Regions from separate parts of the Homo sapiens genome. Here region 1 is linked to region 2. Evidence: fine-mapped expression QTL. A gene starts in region 2. The other region holds a variant in brackets. All regions are shown on one strand. Distances are from middle to middle. Region 1 has its middle 5.3 kb from the start of AWAT1. Region 2 holds the start of NALF2 (NALCN channel auxiliary factor 2).

Region 1 (8,471 bases), 720 kb before region 2:
CCATTTTAAATATTGATATGTCCTTGAAGTTTTCTCTCTCTCTTTTTTATGGTTTTTTTTCTTTTTTGAGGCAGGATCTTACTCTGCCACCCAGGCTGGAGTGTAGTGGCGCAAACACAGCTCACTGCAGCCTCAATCTCCCAGGCTTAAGTGATCCTCCAGCCTCAGCCTCCTGAGTAGTTGGGACCACAGGTGCGCACCATCACGCCTGGCTAATTTTTTATTTTTTGTAGAGATGGGGTGTCACCATGTTGCCCAGGCTGGTCTTGAACTCATGAGCTCAAGAAATCCTCCCACCTCAGCATCCCAAAGTGCTGGGATTACAAGCATGAGCCATCATACCTGGCCATTTTTACTTTTTAATTTGGAATACTTTTAGATTTATGAGAGAGTTGCAAAGATAGTACAGAGAGTTCCCTACACCCTTCGTGTAGCTTCCCCTTTATGTTAACATCTTATAAAACAATGGTATATTTATCACAACTAAGAAACCAATATTGGTGCATTTATATTTACTAAACACCAGGTTTTATTTGTATTGTATCAATTTTTTTCCACAAATGTCCATTTTCTGTCCCAGGATCCCATTGGAATCTCACATTGCATTTAATCATCATCTCTCCTTTGTCTCCTCCTCCTTTGACAGTGTCTCTGTTTTTATTTTATTTTATTATTATTTTTTAACCACATACTCAGATTGGGTTAGTTTCTCGGTCTTTCCGTGACTTCCATGACTTTGGTGCTTTTGAAGAGTTTAAGTCGGTTCCCCCTCCATCCCTTTCCTTTCCTTATGCTTTAGCTATTGAAGAACCCACAGCATTTGACCTGTAGAATTTCCCACAGTTTGGATTTTGCTTATCTCATACTTACTTAGGGTGCTTCAGCATGTTCCTCTGTATTTCTTGCAGATTGATAGCTGGATTCAAAGACTATAGTGATTCAGATTTGATCCCTTTGTCAAGATCTTAATTTTCTTTTAATATAGAACAATCTCCCTTCCTCCCCTCCTTTTTTTCCCATGCCACTGACTTAGTGAAGACTGTTTTTCTTTGGAGTAAGCCAGTCTTCCAAGCTTCTGTGAGCAGGGTTGGGGTGTGGAGTGTGATTCCTAGGTGAGTCTCAAATACAGGCCAACGTGGGAGGGGGGAAGCAAAGCCCTCATTTCTCTCTTGAACTCTTGTTGTAACTTTATGCCCATTAAAGCAAACGTGGTTGTGTGTGTGTGGTTTTTGGTTTTGTTTTTTGCTTTTTCCACCTGAAGTTTACATGCTTCTAAAGAGATTGGGACCATATCTTATTTGTCAGTATATCTGCTCCTAATGCCTGAAAGCCCTAGGGCCTCGGCGTTAAGAGAAGGATCAGTAAGTGAGGATCTTAGTTTGGGGTCTATGATTGGATGATTTCTTACGGGTAATGAGATCACTAGAGTCCTATGGGGGCATATGTCCCGGGGACTTGAGTGGGGGATGAGAGGCCATACAGAAACAAGACAAGGAACACATTACAAAAGGGGAGAAGAAAGAATGAGAGAAAGGAAGGCAGACGCTCACCTTTGAGGCACTTTGGCAAAAGAAAAAGTTCTGCCTACTTTGCCCTCCCACTCCAGGTCTTCCTGTTTACTGGAAACCAGCCTGGCTCTAGAGCAAATGTTAGCACTCAGGTCTTACGGCACCACTGCCCTATCGATGTGTTGACATCCTGTGGTTGAGGTTGGAAACTCGCCCCTGATAATATGGGGGAGATTAGCACTCTGTCTTTCCAGAATAGAATATCCTGGGCCTACACCAACTCCCTCTTCATACTCTCTCATCCTTGTAAATTGTCTTCTCCAGGAAGCAAGCCTCCTGGGTTAACTTTTAATAATATGTGAATTCTCAGTTTTTCTCCTCTATTTCCTCCTGCCTCCCTTGGAAAAAAAAGTAAGTAAGTTGTTGAGAAGACCTTCAAGCTAAGAGAGTTGACCTGTATATATATTTTTCTTTTTAGCACTAGATCCCAACCATTGCCTTAGTACTTTAACGTTTACAATGCCATGGATCTCCACATGATAATACGTAACAAACTAAAGCCACTATGTATATACATCATGACAGTATTTATATGCATTTGAAAGAAAAGTGTGCTGTAAGCATATTATTTATTCATTCTAAACAATGCTCGGGTCAGGTAGAGGTTTCTGGAGTCCTTGTAATAATTAAGTTACTCCTCCACTCCTCAGAGGTTTGCACCTCCAGGTTGGAAACAATGGCTTTCTTGCTTTTTTCCAAAACGGAAATTTATTTCCTTTTTTTTCTGATTATGAAAATAATCCATGTAAATCATAAAATTTTCAGAGCACTCAGAAAAGTATAAAGGGAACAAAAGTCATTCATAATCTCACTACCCAGAAATGACCACTGTTAACTGTTAACATCCTGGTATCTATCTTTCTTGACTTTTTGTCTATACAAATATAAGCATAGGTATAGAGTCCCTGTTAAGAGTTCGGGCTCTTGAGTCCAACATATCTAAGTCTATGTCTCAGCTCTGCCACTTAAGTGAACTATGGCAGATGATTTAATCTCTTAGTGCCTCCGTTTCCTCATAAGTAAAAAGATACTTATAATACCCACATCACAGAGTTGTCAAGAAGTTAGAATAATTCATGTGAAGCATTTTGATCAGTGCCTTGCTCATATATATGATCATATTAAAAGCTCGATACATGTTAGTTACTATATATATTAACCAAAATGGGATTATATTCTATGTCCCATTTTGTAACCTGCTTTTTCACCCAAAAGTATATCGTGGACATTTTTCATGTCAATCTTCTTCTGTAACATTATACATAGCATTTCATTGTATGGATATGCTATAATTCATTTAACCAATCTCCTATTATGGAGGAAGCACTTATTTTTAGACATGTCTCTTTCACACTCTGGTCAGATCTTTAGCTCTTTTAATGGTAGGTGAAATGTCACTGATCAGAAACCCTCCTATACTTGGAGCCTTCTCAATGGCAATGCTGTGTCCTCTCCCCCAGCACTTCCTAGGAGTTAGTGGTACAGAAAGTGAAATGCATTCTTTTTTCTTTTTTTTTTTTTGAGACAGAGTCTCGCTCTTGTGCCCCAGGCTGGAGTGCAATGGCATGATCTCGGCTCACTGCAACCTCTGCCTCCTGGGTTCAAGTGATTCTCCTGACTCAGCCTCCTGAGTAGCTGGGATCACAGGTGTGTGCCGCCACACCTGGCTAATTTTTGTATTTTTAGTAGAGACGGGGTTGCACCATGTTGGCTAGGCTGGTCTTGAACTCCTGACCTCAACTGATCCACCCGTCTTGGCCTCCCAAAGTGCTGGGATTACAGGCATGAGCCACCACGCCCGGCCTGTGAAATGCATTCTTAAGCTTCCATCAACCTGGGTAGGTTCCAGGGACCAGGTAGCCAGGTTAGCAGAATCAGCCTCTCTCTCCAAGGAGATGACCATGTCTGAACAAAGGGCTTGATTTTCTTCTCCAAACAACTCAGGAAGCATAGCTATGGTCTGAATGTGTCCCCCAAAGTTCATGTGTTAGAAACTTAATTCCAAATACAATGCTGTTAAGAGGTGGGCCTTTAAGGGATAATTAATGTCATTATCACAGGAAGGGGCTAGTTATCATGGGAGTAGGTTCTTTATCACAAGAGGGGATTCATTATAAAAGCGAGTTTGGCGCTTTCTTGCTCTCGCTCTTGCTCTTCTGCCTTCTACCATGGAATGACTCAGTAAGAAGACCCTCACCAGACGCAGGCCCCTTAAGTTTGGACATCTCAGACCCCAGAACTAGAAGAAATAAATTTATTTTCTTTGTGAATTACCCAGTCTGTAGTATTCTGTTATGGCAACACAAAATTGTCCAAGACAGCAGGTTTCATGAAGGCCCACAGTATCCTACTAGACCTGGCAGGGCTGTTGTTTGGATTCACCTCAGTTAAATTGAGGAAATGTTTAAATAAATGCAAGCTAAGTCCAGGGCTGAGGTGAAGCCTGGAAAAATGGGACTTGTAAGTCCCATCACTGAGGTCAGCCTGTACCCAGGACAAACTAGGTAA[G/A]AAATCTGTTGTTTCATCAGTGTCTTGGCTTCTAGGCTTTTCTATTGTTTTGTTTTCCTTTTGAGAAAAATTCAGTCAGCTCACCTGAACTAATGATTAGTGTTTTACAATTTCCTAGGCCAGAATGTCTGGGGCATCCAGGGATTTTCTTGGTATCTGGGTGGTCCTGGCCACCCTTCCTGAATGACATATTTTTAAAAAAGTAATAGCTAAAAGAAAACCTGGGAATGTGGAGAACTGGTTGTTAGTAAGGACATGATCCTTTCCTTTTGTTTTTGTTTTCTTAATGTGACATCAAGAAATTGTAGTAATCGTAATCCTTGGCGAATGACATACTTTCATTGTTTTATGAATGTCCTTCTTTTCTATCTATGTATCCATGTATCTATGTATCTATGTATCTGTGTATCTATCTATCTATCTACCTACCTACCTACCTACCTTTATTGATCCAGGTTTTTCCAGTTGGAATTTCCCTCTCGAGCACTACACATGTAAAGTACTGTCTTGCCCCTGGATCACAAGTTAGCCGCTAGTTATCTGGCCTTGGTCTTCGCTTTCTTCTCTGAGAGCTGAAGGTATCTTCTTGATGCTACAGCTTTGGTAATAGAATTCTTCTTTCCCTTATCTTCAGTCCCTGGCCTGTAAGCATTCATCAGAGCAGATTCAAACTCTCAAGTGAGTTCTGTCATAATAGGATGTGGGCAGCAAATAGCTAAAATAGGTCACGGAGGATGAAGAGGTGTCAACATTCTCCTAAGCCAATGTTTGGTCATATGAGGATCTAGGTATCAAGACACAACTTGATGTTCTAAGATCTGGAAGGTCAGCAAGTAGGGAGGTCAAGGCAAAAATAAACCAAGAGGGAAGGCCACTCCAAAAAGCGGCAAAGCCAGTGGAAACCACCCAGGCCTAGTCCTAGGTCAAAGGTTAGTGGATATCAAAAGGGCAAGTGATCTTGGTCTCTCTGTCTGGATGATTAGAACAATCAGACAGGAGTCTTGCCATTGTCACACCTGCTTTGACATGCTGGGCCAAGCTGTCATGCAGTGTCACTGGCTAACCTCAGCTTATACCCAAGTTACCCTACCTGCCTCTGGCTTTCTGCCTTTTCATTTTAAACATGTTTTTGTGCAAAACAATTGGATGAATTCATGCTGTAGGGTGTGTGTGTGTGTGTGTGTGTGTGTGTGTGTGTGTGTGTGTATAACTAGCCAAGGTAGGGGCAGCAAAGATCGAGGATTTAATGCAGTGTGATAGCTGCAGGAGTGAAAACCATGGTGTGCAAAGAATCTCTCATATCACAGAATGTGGCTAGGCAAATGCTATCTGGCAAGCTGCTTCCGTTTCTCCAACATGACTGAACTGTGAGGGACTGAGAACCCATCAGTCTGAAGGGCAATGGTTTATTGGCTGCAAACTCTCCGGGGCCTAGGCACCCACCAGGGACTCTTTCTCATTCATTCTCAAGTCCAGGAATGGCTGCCTGTGCCCACTGGGTAACAGCCATTCATCTCATACATTATATCCTTCATAAGTAGTTAACCCCATTGGCCCCTCGATGTTTCTGGAAGATCTTAGTTTCCCACTCTTTTCACCTTTGGTGTCAGAGAGACTACAAGGGACATCAAGATCATAAAACTGGGCTGGGCGTGGTGGCTCGCACCTGTAATCTTAGCACTTTGGGAGGCCGAGGCAGGTGGATTACTTGAGGTCAGGAGTTCAAGACCAGCCTGGCCAACATGGTGAAACCCCATCTCTACTAAAAATACAAAAAATTAGCTGGACATGGTGGTGGGCGCCTGTAATTCCAGCTACTCGGGAGGCTGAGGCAGGAGAATCACTTGAACCCGGAGGCGGAGGTTGCAGTGAGCTGAGATCACGCCATTGCACTCCAGCCTGGGCAACAAGAGCGAAACGCCATCTGAAAAAAAAAAAAAGAATCATAAAATTTTTCATCTTATCTTCTGGGAGAAGTAGCTGGTGTGGCTTGATGTTTCCAAGGCTTCGTCTTTATCTTCTAAGAGATGGCATGCTTGCCAAAGTTACTGTAGCTGCTGGGGCTGCGGGCAGAGAGGGATACCCTTCACTGCAGGGTAGTGGGGAATTACATAAACTTTTATTGTCCTTAATATGTTCTCAAAACTAAACTAAACTTAGTGTATGGTTTATTCAACCTCTGGGAATGAGAAAAACATCTTTTATGCCCCAAAGCTGTGACCTGTTACATAGAGGAGGCAGGGAGACCTAGAAGGAGTCAAGACCTACAAGCTGAGCCAGAGGTTGCAAACTCAAATGTCTCTAGGGATCAGAGATATAGAGATGAGGGAACCAGGCTGAGAGTTGTAACAAGGAATGGTGGGGAGTATGTTGACCCAGAGAGGGCGTGTTCCTTCTAAAGGCCTTCAAATTTAGTTTCTCCAACTATTTTTAGAAAAAACTTCAAACATACAGGAAGGTTGAAAGAATAGTATAATAAACAACTGTATATCATCTACCTCTCAAATTCAACAATTAATATTGTGCATATTTATCTCTCTGTACATATATGCATATGTACATGTATACATGTATACATGTTTTATGTGGACAGCACGGTTATGGTTGTTTTTAAATTTGAAATGGTTCAGAAAAACAAGACACACATACATACATATATGCATCTGACTTAAGAAATAGATGCTACCAGTAGTTTCTAAGGCCCCTGTGTGCCTGTCCCTGTTCTCATTCCCCCGTGCCCTCCCCTACCATGAGTAACTGATGTGTTTGTCTATTATTCCCTTGATTTTATTTACAGTTCCATCACATATGTATGTCTCCTTAAACAATAAAACATTTAGGTTTGTCTGCTTTTGACATAGAAACATTACACACACACACACACACACACACACACACACACACACAGTATTCTTCTGTTACTTGATTGTTTTCACTCAACACTATGATTTTGATACTCATCTTTGTTGACATACGCAGCTCTGCTTTTTGTATTCCATTGTATGAATATGGATGTACCACAGTTCATTCATCCATGTTCTTATTGATGGACATTTATATTGGTTTTTGCTATTATGTACATTGCTTCTAGAACATTCTATTTTATGTCTTCTGGTGCTCATGTGCAAAAGTTTCTCTAGGATCTATAACTAAGAGTGGAACTGCTGGGTCATATGGTCTGTGTGTATTCAATTGTACTAGAGCATACTAGATTGTTTTCCAAAGTGATTGTATCAGTATATGCCTTTGCCAGAGTGTGAGAGTTCACATTGCTCCATATCTTCTCTAACACTTGGCTTTAACTAACTTTAAAATTTTTGCCAATCAGTTTAGTGTGAGATGCTACATTGCTGTGGTTTTAATGTGCATTTCCTTAATTACTAATGAGTTTGGGTGTATCAGTTCATATGTTTATGAGCAATATTTCTTCTGGAAAATTCTTGTCTATGTTGTTATTGATTTTTCTATTGGTTGTTTTCCTCTTATTGATTTGCAGGAGCTCTTGATATATTCCACATATTAATCCTTTGTCAGTTAGGTGCTGGAACTGTCAACATACCAATGTGTGGTGGGGTATGGAGGACATAGCCTCCAGAGCCAGACTACGTGGATTCAAATCCCAGCTCCACTTTTTACTAACTGTAAAAGATCTCGCACAATTTAACCTCTCTGTGCCTCAGTTTCCTTAACCCCTTTGAGCTTCTTTGTTCTCATCTGTGGAGTACCTAATTCATAAGTTATGATGATGATTAATTGATTTAATATGTGTAAAGTACTTAGAATGGTGCCTGGTAATCAAGACATAGCTATTTTAAAAAAAGCTTTTATTTTAGGCTCCGGAGTACATGTGCAGGTTTGTTTTATAGGTAAACTCATGTCACAGGGGTTCGTTGTACAGATTATTTCATCACCCAGGTACTAAACCTAGCACCCATTCGTTATTTTTTCTGATCCTCTCCCTCCTCCCTTCTTCCACCCACAAGTAGGCCCCAGTATCTGTTTGTGTCCATGCGTTCTCATCATATGGCTCCCACTTATAAGTGAGAACAAAGGCATAGTTTTAAATAAAATGCTCCTCTGAGAGTAGGGATTTAAAGAAAATTTATAAAGTAACTTTTATTTTGTTACAATGTTTTCTCTTTTAAATTTCTAACAAAGTAATAAATTCAAGTGATAAAAAATAAAATAGTACAGAGGGTTTATGATGAAAAGGAACAGTTATCTAACCCTGTCTCCACTTCCTAAGGGAAAATAATTTTAACTCATTTTGGTATTAATTCTGGTGATTATCTCCCTAAGTCTAAACAATATGCTTTGATCTGTTCACTGATGTATCTGAAGGGCTGTTGACAATGCCTGGCACATAGTAGGTGCTCAATAATATTTGTTGAATGA
Region 2 (8,471 bases):
AGGCATGACCCTGGGAGTTGGGAGAGGCCAGGGCGGGGAAGGGCATCGGCCTACCTAAGTTACATTGCCCTGCTGTGTGAGAGGAAGTCAGTTGCACATTAAGGAAATGTTGCAGCTGGTACTAAATTGGGAGGTGTCACAGGCAGCAGCGAGGACAGGTATGATTCGTGGGGCCCTGTGTGGCCTGAAACGGGGGCAGATATTGCAAAGGCAGAGAACAGGGTTTCTGGGGCCACCCAGGGAAGAGCTAACTGATGCACTCAGTACAGGGTCCTGGGGACAGGGGGTCACCTGGCTCTGAAACAGAGGTTCCCAGCTTGGTTTCTAGAAGTAAGAAAGCCTCTTCATCTTGGCCTGGGGCTGTGGTCTCTCCACTCAGGAGAAGCTCTGAGGGTGGGGCGTCATCTCGCAGGGATCCCATTTGGGGTGGGGACCAGACAGGAGGGCTTGGAGCCCAGGAACGGGGTTTGGGAATGGCAAGTAAGGCCTGCCAGGGAGGTGGGGTGAGGGACTGAGGAGAGAGGAGCCTACAGTCCAAGTAGGGTAGCAGGGCTGTCTTTTCCCTTCGTGCCCATCATACAGCTGGATTCGAGAGCCAGGTGGGTCTGGCCTCAGTTGAGGGAGAGAGCATTGGACAAGGGTGGGAAAGGCCGGAAGAGAGCTATGGAGCTGGCACTGCCCTTCTGCCGGCACAGCAGGCAGCGAGAGCACAGGAGGAGTTCGCTGGTTTGCTGGAGAGAGACAGACAAGAAGACAAAGGAGAGGAGGGAGGGCCATCAGGAACTTGATGTGAGGCCATGGCAAAAGCACGAGGTTGGCACCAAAACACGTGGGCTGGAGTCCTGGCACTCCTGCTCATTAGCTGAGTGACCTTAGGGCAAACCATTTGATCCCCTTGCACCTGAGTTTCCTCATCTGTAAAATGGGAGTAGTGGTGCTAGTATCACCAGCCTCCTTGATCTCATAACACACACGAGAGGGGCGGAAAAACCTTAAGCATTACATTAATGTCAGATGTTATATTCTTATTACAAAATACATCTGCACCTTCTTCCCACAAAAGACCCAGGATGTGGGCAGAGCAAGGATGATGATCCCTGTTTTACAAATGAGGAAATGAAAGCTTACAGAAGTGAAGTGACTTGCCCAAGGTCATACCACTAACAAGAAGTAGAGGTGATAAGGCCTCCTGAACTGGAGAGATCAGATGTATTTCTCCTACGTCACACTGCTTGGTAAAAACAATCAACATGAGAGATTTGTATTTAGTTCAGGTCCAGACAGAAATCGGAGTCAACTACAACACGGAGAAAACCCCATGGGGAAGTTGTGGCATGCCTCTCATTCATACTGGTGATTGAGGAAAAAAACAAAACAAACAAACAAAAAACAGGGCCATGGGGTTGAAGGGAGGGCCACAAAAAACAGACATCCTTGATTCCATCTGCTTGTGGACCCTGTCTCTCTGCTCCCACTGAGTGTATGTGTCCGTGGCTGACATCGAGGGTATGTGTCTCTGTAAGACAAAATGTGCCCTTCTTCATGTGACAGTACTTCTGCCTGCGTGTCTCTGATACCATGGGGAGATGTGCGTGTGTGTGACACGGCATCTGCTTCTAATGACACTGTTTGTGGGTGTGACGACCTCTCTGCATGCCTATGTGACTTTGCCCGGGGTGGTGGTGATGGTGTATGGCAGTGTGTGTGTCTATCTGTCTGTATACCTTTAAGAAGTGGAATATCTCATTTGGTAGTGTGAGTGAGGCAGTGAGTCAGCTGAGGCTGAGGGAGGCGGGAGGGAGACTGCTAGGTTACGAGAGCAGGAAAAAGGAGAAGGAGAAAGTGAAGTCAGGAGCGAGGAACTACCCTTTTCCTTCCCAACCCTCTGCCCCAATCCCTAGGGAACCCGCTAAAAGCATGGAAGCCCTGCAGAAGTCCACAAGGGCCATGCTGGATGGAAAATGGCACTTTCTGCCCCTCCCCAAAGTCTTGGAGGGACACGAGCTAGGCTAGAAAGCAACTGTCTCACTCTCCAGCTCTTGGCCCCAGCTCGAGGATGTGTGAGGCCACCACCCCTCCTGGTCTCCTTGTCATCTGACCCTTTGACCTTGCTGTTCTCTTTCCTCCCAAAGGCAGGTCACCTGGCCAGGCTGGGCGAGCAGGGCAGTACCATCAAGTCCCAAATGTTTGCAGCCCTCACCCACCTAACTGTCCAGAGCAACCCCGCCGAGGGTCAAGAAGTTTCTTAACACTCAGCTCTTCCCTAGGCGGGCCGGTCTGCAGCTGCCTCACCTCTCCTCTGGATACCTATCCCCAGCAGCTAGAAAGCCAGTGTTCCCCCCACTGTCACCATGGGGTGCTGGGAAGGCACTGGGAGTTTTGTATGAGAATGCACTAACCTTCAGTGGCCTTCCCACCAGTCGCTGTTCCCTGTTCCCAGCTCCTTCCTTTGTCAGGGGAGAAGAGCCTGCAGGTGACTTCCTTGGGAGAAGACAGGCAGCCCCTGGGCTCGACCTGCCTCGGCTCTGGCCAGTCACCTCAGGTCACATAAGGTCAAGTGTGTGGTGTGCCCCACCACCAGGAGTGCTCGTCCTCTCACCCACTGGCAGAAGCCAAAGGGTGAGGGTTTGGTTGCCAAATATTCTTCCTCCCATCTTTGGCCTTCCCCCTGCACCAGCCAGTCCCAGGACGTTCAGTTCCAGCCTCTGAAAGGAGAGGGGCATGGCTGGCTGAGGATGGAGGCTGGGGGGAGCACAATCCCTCCTGCCACCTCATTGTCAGCCCAGGGCCCTGCGGCCCCTCCCCACTCATGAGGGAGCAGGGCGCCAGGAAGCCCCAGGCCTAAGGTGCCCAAACCCGGAATTAATAGAAGTTAGCCAGGTGGTTACCTGACCTGAATCCCTGAGGCCTCTTCACTAGGGAAGGTCCCAGGGTGGCACTGGTAGTGCTGCACTGGGCACGGTGGGAGTGGTGGGGTGGGTAGAAAGGGAGACTTCCTTTTTTCTCCCGGTCCCACTGCGGCCGCTGCCGCTGCCCAGGGCGGCTGCTGTGGCTGCGGAAGCCAGTCCTTACCTTACAGCCTTTCGTGCAGGACCGGATTGAGTACTCTTCCGCCTGTAAGTATTTATGCAGCACGAGGTCGAACTCGTCATATTTTTCCTGAGCGTGTCGGTCCAGCCGCTGGTACGCCTCGATACAGTTGCTACACGCCTCCCAGGCCCCGGAGCCCGGGCTGGCCACCACGGCCAGCAGGTCCCCCATCAGGGTGTCCAGGCTACAGTCCAGGCTGTCGGGGCGGTCCATGCCCAGCAGCAAGTCCCAGACCGTGTAGGTGTCGCAAAAGGAGAGAGTGAAGTTCCGAAAGTGGCCTTTGAGCAAGTTTTTTTTGGCGGAGGGGAACTCGGCCGGGGCACGGGAAAGGGAGTCAGGGGGCCGCAGAGGGGGGGCCGGAGTAGTCGGTTCGAAAAGTCTCTGCAAAGATTGCAATTTGGTGCAAGCTGCGTCCAGCCCCGTGGGCTCTGGGACGCCGCCGCAGACCGGCCGAGAGCCGGCGGCGGGGGCGGCTTTGGTCAGGTTGCTGTATCTGGGGCCGCAGGTGCCTGGGGGCGCGCTGGGCTCGCCGGGCGGCGGCGGCGGCAGCGGCAGCACCGCGCGAGGAGGCACCGGCTGCCGCTCCCGGCCGGCCCCCCATGGGGGCCGCATGGCGCTGCTCAGCTCCCTGGCCCGGGGCCGGGCCCCCGCGCACAGCCACAGATGGTCAGCGAGCAGCACGGTGAAGAAGAGCAGGGACGCCAGGGACAGTCGCCATCGCTGCGCCCGCTCGGAGTCGGCGCAAGGTTTGTCGCTCGGCCTGGGAGCCCAGCAGCAGCAGCAGCAGCAGATAGTCAGCGCGGCGGCGTCTTTCCCGGGCCACATCCAAGCGCCCCTGAACATATTTCAGGGGGGTCCGGGCTGGAGGGAACAGGCAGGCGCGAGGCCAGACGGCCGTCTGGGGCGGGCGGGCTGCGCGCCGCTCTGCGCTCCTCGGCGCCGTCCAGGCTCTACCTCGGGGGCTGCATGGTGAGGCAGGCCGGCCGGCGCGATGCCCCGCTCAGGCCGGAGTCGCGGGGCGCTCTGGTGCCGTCTCCGCGCCGCTCCCGCGCTCCGTCGCTCTCAGCCCGGGCGCCGCCGCCCGGCCCGCTAGGCGCTGCCCGGCGTCCCGGCTGGGGGCGGTGCGGGGCACTGGGGCGGTGGCGGCTGCGGCGGCGGCGCCGCACTCCTCATAGTGTCGGGCCCCTCAGCTGCCCTCGGCTCCGTGCCACTTCACTCCGCGCCGGCGGCCGCCCGGCTCGCACTCCAAACCGGCCGTCTCGGTTCGGCGCAGCTCTGCGCCCCTCAGCGCCGCCGTGCGGGCCCCGCCGCCGCGCTCCGCTCCGCTCCCCTCGCCCCGCGCCGCTCCGCTCCCGCCCGTCCGCCCGCTGCCCGCTCCACGCCGCTCCCTGCCTCGCTCGCGCCCTCCTAGGCCGGCCGGCCGGTCCGTTGCCGGGCCCTTCGGGCTTCGTTCGCGCTCCGGGTGTTCGCCGGGGCCAGTCCCTGGCGGGCTCCGCTCTGGCTCCGCACCCGCTGCTCCTGGAGTTCCGGCTCGGGCGGGCCACCTGGCTCCCGGCAGCGCCACAGGCGCCGGACGCAGACACCGGGCTTTACTTAGTGCGCCTCTCGCTTCCGCCTCTCGTTCGCACCGCTGTGGCTGCAGCCCAGCGGCACGGCCCCGTGGCTCCCGCTGGCCATGCACCCTCAGTCTGTCGCCATCTTCCGCTGTGCGGAGAACACCTTGAGAGCCCCTGTGCAAGTGTGTTTGGCGGGGAGCAGGGCGGAGAAAGAGGCACGGAGAGGAGGAGGGAGCGGGACTGGTGCCCCGACTGCGCCTGCGCCTCAGGACTCCCCCCACCCCACCCCGCCCCAGCCCCCGCCGGCCGCAGCCGGTGCTGTTTGGGGATGTTTCCAGTCCACCCCCAACTCCATTCACTTCAGCGCCTCCGTTCATCCGCCCGCTGCCCGCGTGCACATGCCACACGCTGAGTCCCAGGCCTCGGCGCTCCCCCTCCCCCACTAACCCGGGCGCCCGCCTTCCTCTCCATGGCCGTCCCTCACTCCCCCGAGGGCTAGGGGACTTCTGAGGGTGATTCTTGGAGGCAAGGAGCAGCAGGCATCTCGTAGCTGCTTGCTGCCTCTCTGGGTCGCCTCCGCCGTCCCCGTGACTGGAAGACGCTCGAGCCGGCTGCGGATCGGACCAGTCCAGTGTCCCTAACTCCACCTTCGCCCTCACCGTCCTGCCCGAGGACAAGGCGGCCCTTGGTGCTGAAGGACAGCTCCCAGCTTAGCTGCTGAGGAAGACTGAGTTTGGAGAGCGTCCTGGAGGGGGCAAGGCGGTGGGCTAAGATAGTAGTGGTGGGGTGTCGGTGTTTGCCCTTAGGAATATTTCCAGCAGCCTCCACCCCCCACCCGCCCGCCCCCCACCCAAGCACCAGCCCCCGTCCTAGCTTTTTGGCTCCCCCTACAGGCTGCTGAGAATAGCTGACTGAGAGTTAGAGAAGCTGCGCCGCCCGGATGGAACCATGTGCTTGGGCCCTCACAGAGTCACATGGCACTAGGAATTCGGACGTACAAACATCCTGACGCGCCACTAACCTTGTTTGGACTCCACTGACCCTGTGGTCTGCTTGCCTTCCTCACTCCCAGTAACTCACATTGTAATTTTTTGTCAACCGTTGCCGGCAAGCATTTGTTAATGTTAAGAATAACAATAAAGAAAATAGCCTTAATTGAGCGCGTACTATGTGCTAGGTACTGCTCTATACATTTTGCATGCATTCGTCATCCAATCTTCACAACAGTGTTATGAGATAGGTACTACTGTTATCTTCATTTACATACAAAGAAGCTGAGGTTTAGTGTGGTTGTTGCCTAAAGTAACCAGAGCAGCTAAAAAAGAAACTCAGTCTGACTCTAGAATTCTCTTAACACTCCAGTAAGGCCCTGGAAAGATGAAAGAGCCAAGGCATTCCTTCCTTAAAGGAAATTATAGTCTATATAAGGAAACAAGACATGTATATTGGCTAGTGGGAGGATTCATGAACTAGAGCCTTGGATAAATAACTCAACTGCTGATATGCTGTGTACCCTTGAGAGTCTTTTCCTTTTCTGAGTCTTGGTTTTCCCCTGAGTAACACGAAGGGATGCCAAGGATCAAATGAAATGGGTGGGCATCGTTAGCACTACTCAGAGGTGGACTGGGGTGGGTACATAAAAGGTTTCTGGAAGAGGGACAAATGGAGCTAGTTTCTAAAGTAGCAGGATTAGGGTGGGTGGTTGAGAAGGGCATTCCAAATAAAAGGAATGCAGATGAAAAGTTTCAGGGGTAGGGAGCAGCTTTGTATGTTTGTGAAGCCACGAGTGTGGCAGTTTGGCTATATTGATGGTGAGAATTTGTGGGGAAGGGAGTAGCAGGAAATGAGACAAGGGACAAAACTGTCAGGCATTTGGGAGGCCTATTTATTCATTATGTTACAAGCACTGTGCTAGGGGCTAAGTAGGATACTGCGGTGAATCAGACGGCCCTGCCCTTGAGGTGCTCACAGTTGAATTAGAGAGGCAGACATGTTAAAGAAGAAATTGCAACCTAGTGCAATAAGGATGGTAGGTGTCCCTCCCATAGAGGGAGGGACCAGTCAACTTTGCCAGATTCCCTCAGAGATGATTCTGCACACAGCCGCTGGAGTTGAGTCATTCATTCATTGATTCATTCCTTTGTCAAACATCTATTGAGGATCTATTACATTCTAGATGCTGTATTAGGCATCAGCAATATAGACATGAGTAAAATATGTGTCTTGAGCTGAAGGAGTTTAGTTGAAACCTTAAGGGATGAGTAAGGACCGGCTGGACAGGTAGCAAAGAAGGCGGTGTGTGAAGGATGTCCCAGGCAGTGGGAATGTTATGTGTAAAGGACCAGAAGTAACGCCAGGAATGGTACGTTCAGAAACCTGCAAAGTAGTTCATCATGACTAGGTGTGAAGTGGGAGCACTGCCAAAATGAGGCTGAGGATTTGGCAGGAGCCAAATCATGAAGGGCCCTGGGTGCCATGCTAAGTAGTTTGGACTTTATCCCAAGGGCACTAGGAGCCATGGAACAGGCCGAAAGGTTTTCAGCAGGAGGTGACACGATCAGACTTGTATTTTTAGAAGATTGATTTGACTGCAGCATGGAGACTGGATTGGAGGGAGTGAGACGGCAGGCAGGGAAACTAGTTGGGAGACTGGTTAGTAGTCAGGTGAGAGGTGTGGAGGGCTGAACAAAGGCAGCAGCAGTGGAGACAGAGAAAATAAATGCACATGGGAGGGAAATGAAAGAAGTAGAATTGAAAGGAGCTAGGAGGCAGGGCTAGAAAGAGGATGAAACCAAAGAGTTCCAGTTAGTGACACTGGCACGACTGCCCCTGCCCACCTAGGAACTGTCTTTCCTGAGCCATTCTTTGTTTAGTCCTTGGAGGGTTCAGTGTTCTAACAAAGAAAGCTAATCGCTTACAGATACCTAGTTCGGAGCTGATTGGCAGGGCCACAGTGATTGACACCCTTGACTGCCAATGAAAGAGCAGCCTGCCAGGTCTAGGCTATCAGCTCTGAGCACCTCTGGAGCTTTCTGTGAGAAGTCACTCAGGCAAGACTCCCTCCCTCTCCCCAAGCACACACAGGGTGAAAAGTGTCTCACAAAGGTCCATTTATCACAGGAGCACAATATAACAATAACTTACCCAGACAGTTCCCGCTGCACACAAAGAAGAAGTGCTAGCAAACCAACAGTCAGAAGAGGCTCTCATTCTCTAACTTCAGATGACCCAAGAAATTGGGATGGGGGAAGGGAAGGCATTGGCCTTAATCGGCCCCTGGAGCAGAATAGCCAAGGTGGGGAGGGGAACTGGAGTGGCCCGCTGTTCCCCCAGAGCTGGTGGGCCCTGGCCAGTCCTTCTTCTCAGCCCTTTCTTTCCACCTGCTCCCGGGTTAGTGGAGGCTAAAGCCAGGGGATGGAGGCGGGTCACTCCTGAGGGGGCCCAGACTGAACAAGAAGAGCAATAGAGTGCCCTCAAACCAGGCAGAGGGGAAGACAACTTGAGGGAGAGGGAGAAGGGGAAGGTTTCTTGCAGTGAAATGCTGACAATTAGGAAGAAGACAAAGTGGGAGCTGTTTAAAGTGACCAGTGTGGTTGCATCAGGAGCTTTCTGTTAAGCTCAGATCTTAAAAGGTCATGGGGGAAAAAGATGGAAAGAAGGGCATGTAATTAAGGGTGAATCTGTAAGAAGAGTGTCAGGATGGCTAAAGCGCAGCTTGAGCTGACGCTTGTCAGGATCTGCCTGGATCCTGCCTTCATAGTTGGAGTAATTTCTCTCCTATTTGCAGGCTATCCCTGTCCTAAGACAGGAAGGATTGAAGTAACC

The links.
Region 1: its variant is fine-mapped to the expression of NALF2 in breast (GTEx, PIP 0.96).

Annotation. Positions count from the first base shown.
Region 1 is chrX:70,225,086-70,233,556 of GRCh38, reverse strand. No RefSeq gene overlaps it. Among named protein-coding and RNA genes, the nearest start is that of AWAT1, 5.3 kb to the left of the region's middle. The variant G/A (reference allele first, on the strand shown) is at 4,077.
Region 2 is chrX:69,500,745-69,509,215 of GRCh38, reverse strand. NALF2 (NALCN channel auxiliary factor 2) reads right to left here and starts at 4,890. Exons shown (of 3, transcript NM_015686.3): 1 at 3,073-4,890. The coding sequence starts at 3,933. RefSeq lists an enhancer at 2,333-2,832 and a silencer at 3,764-3,937.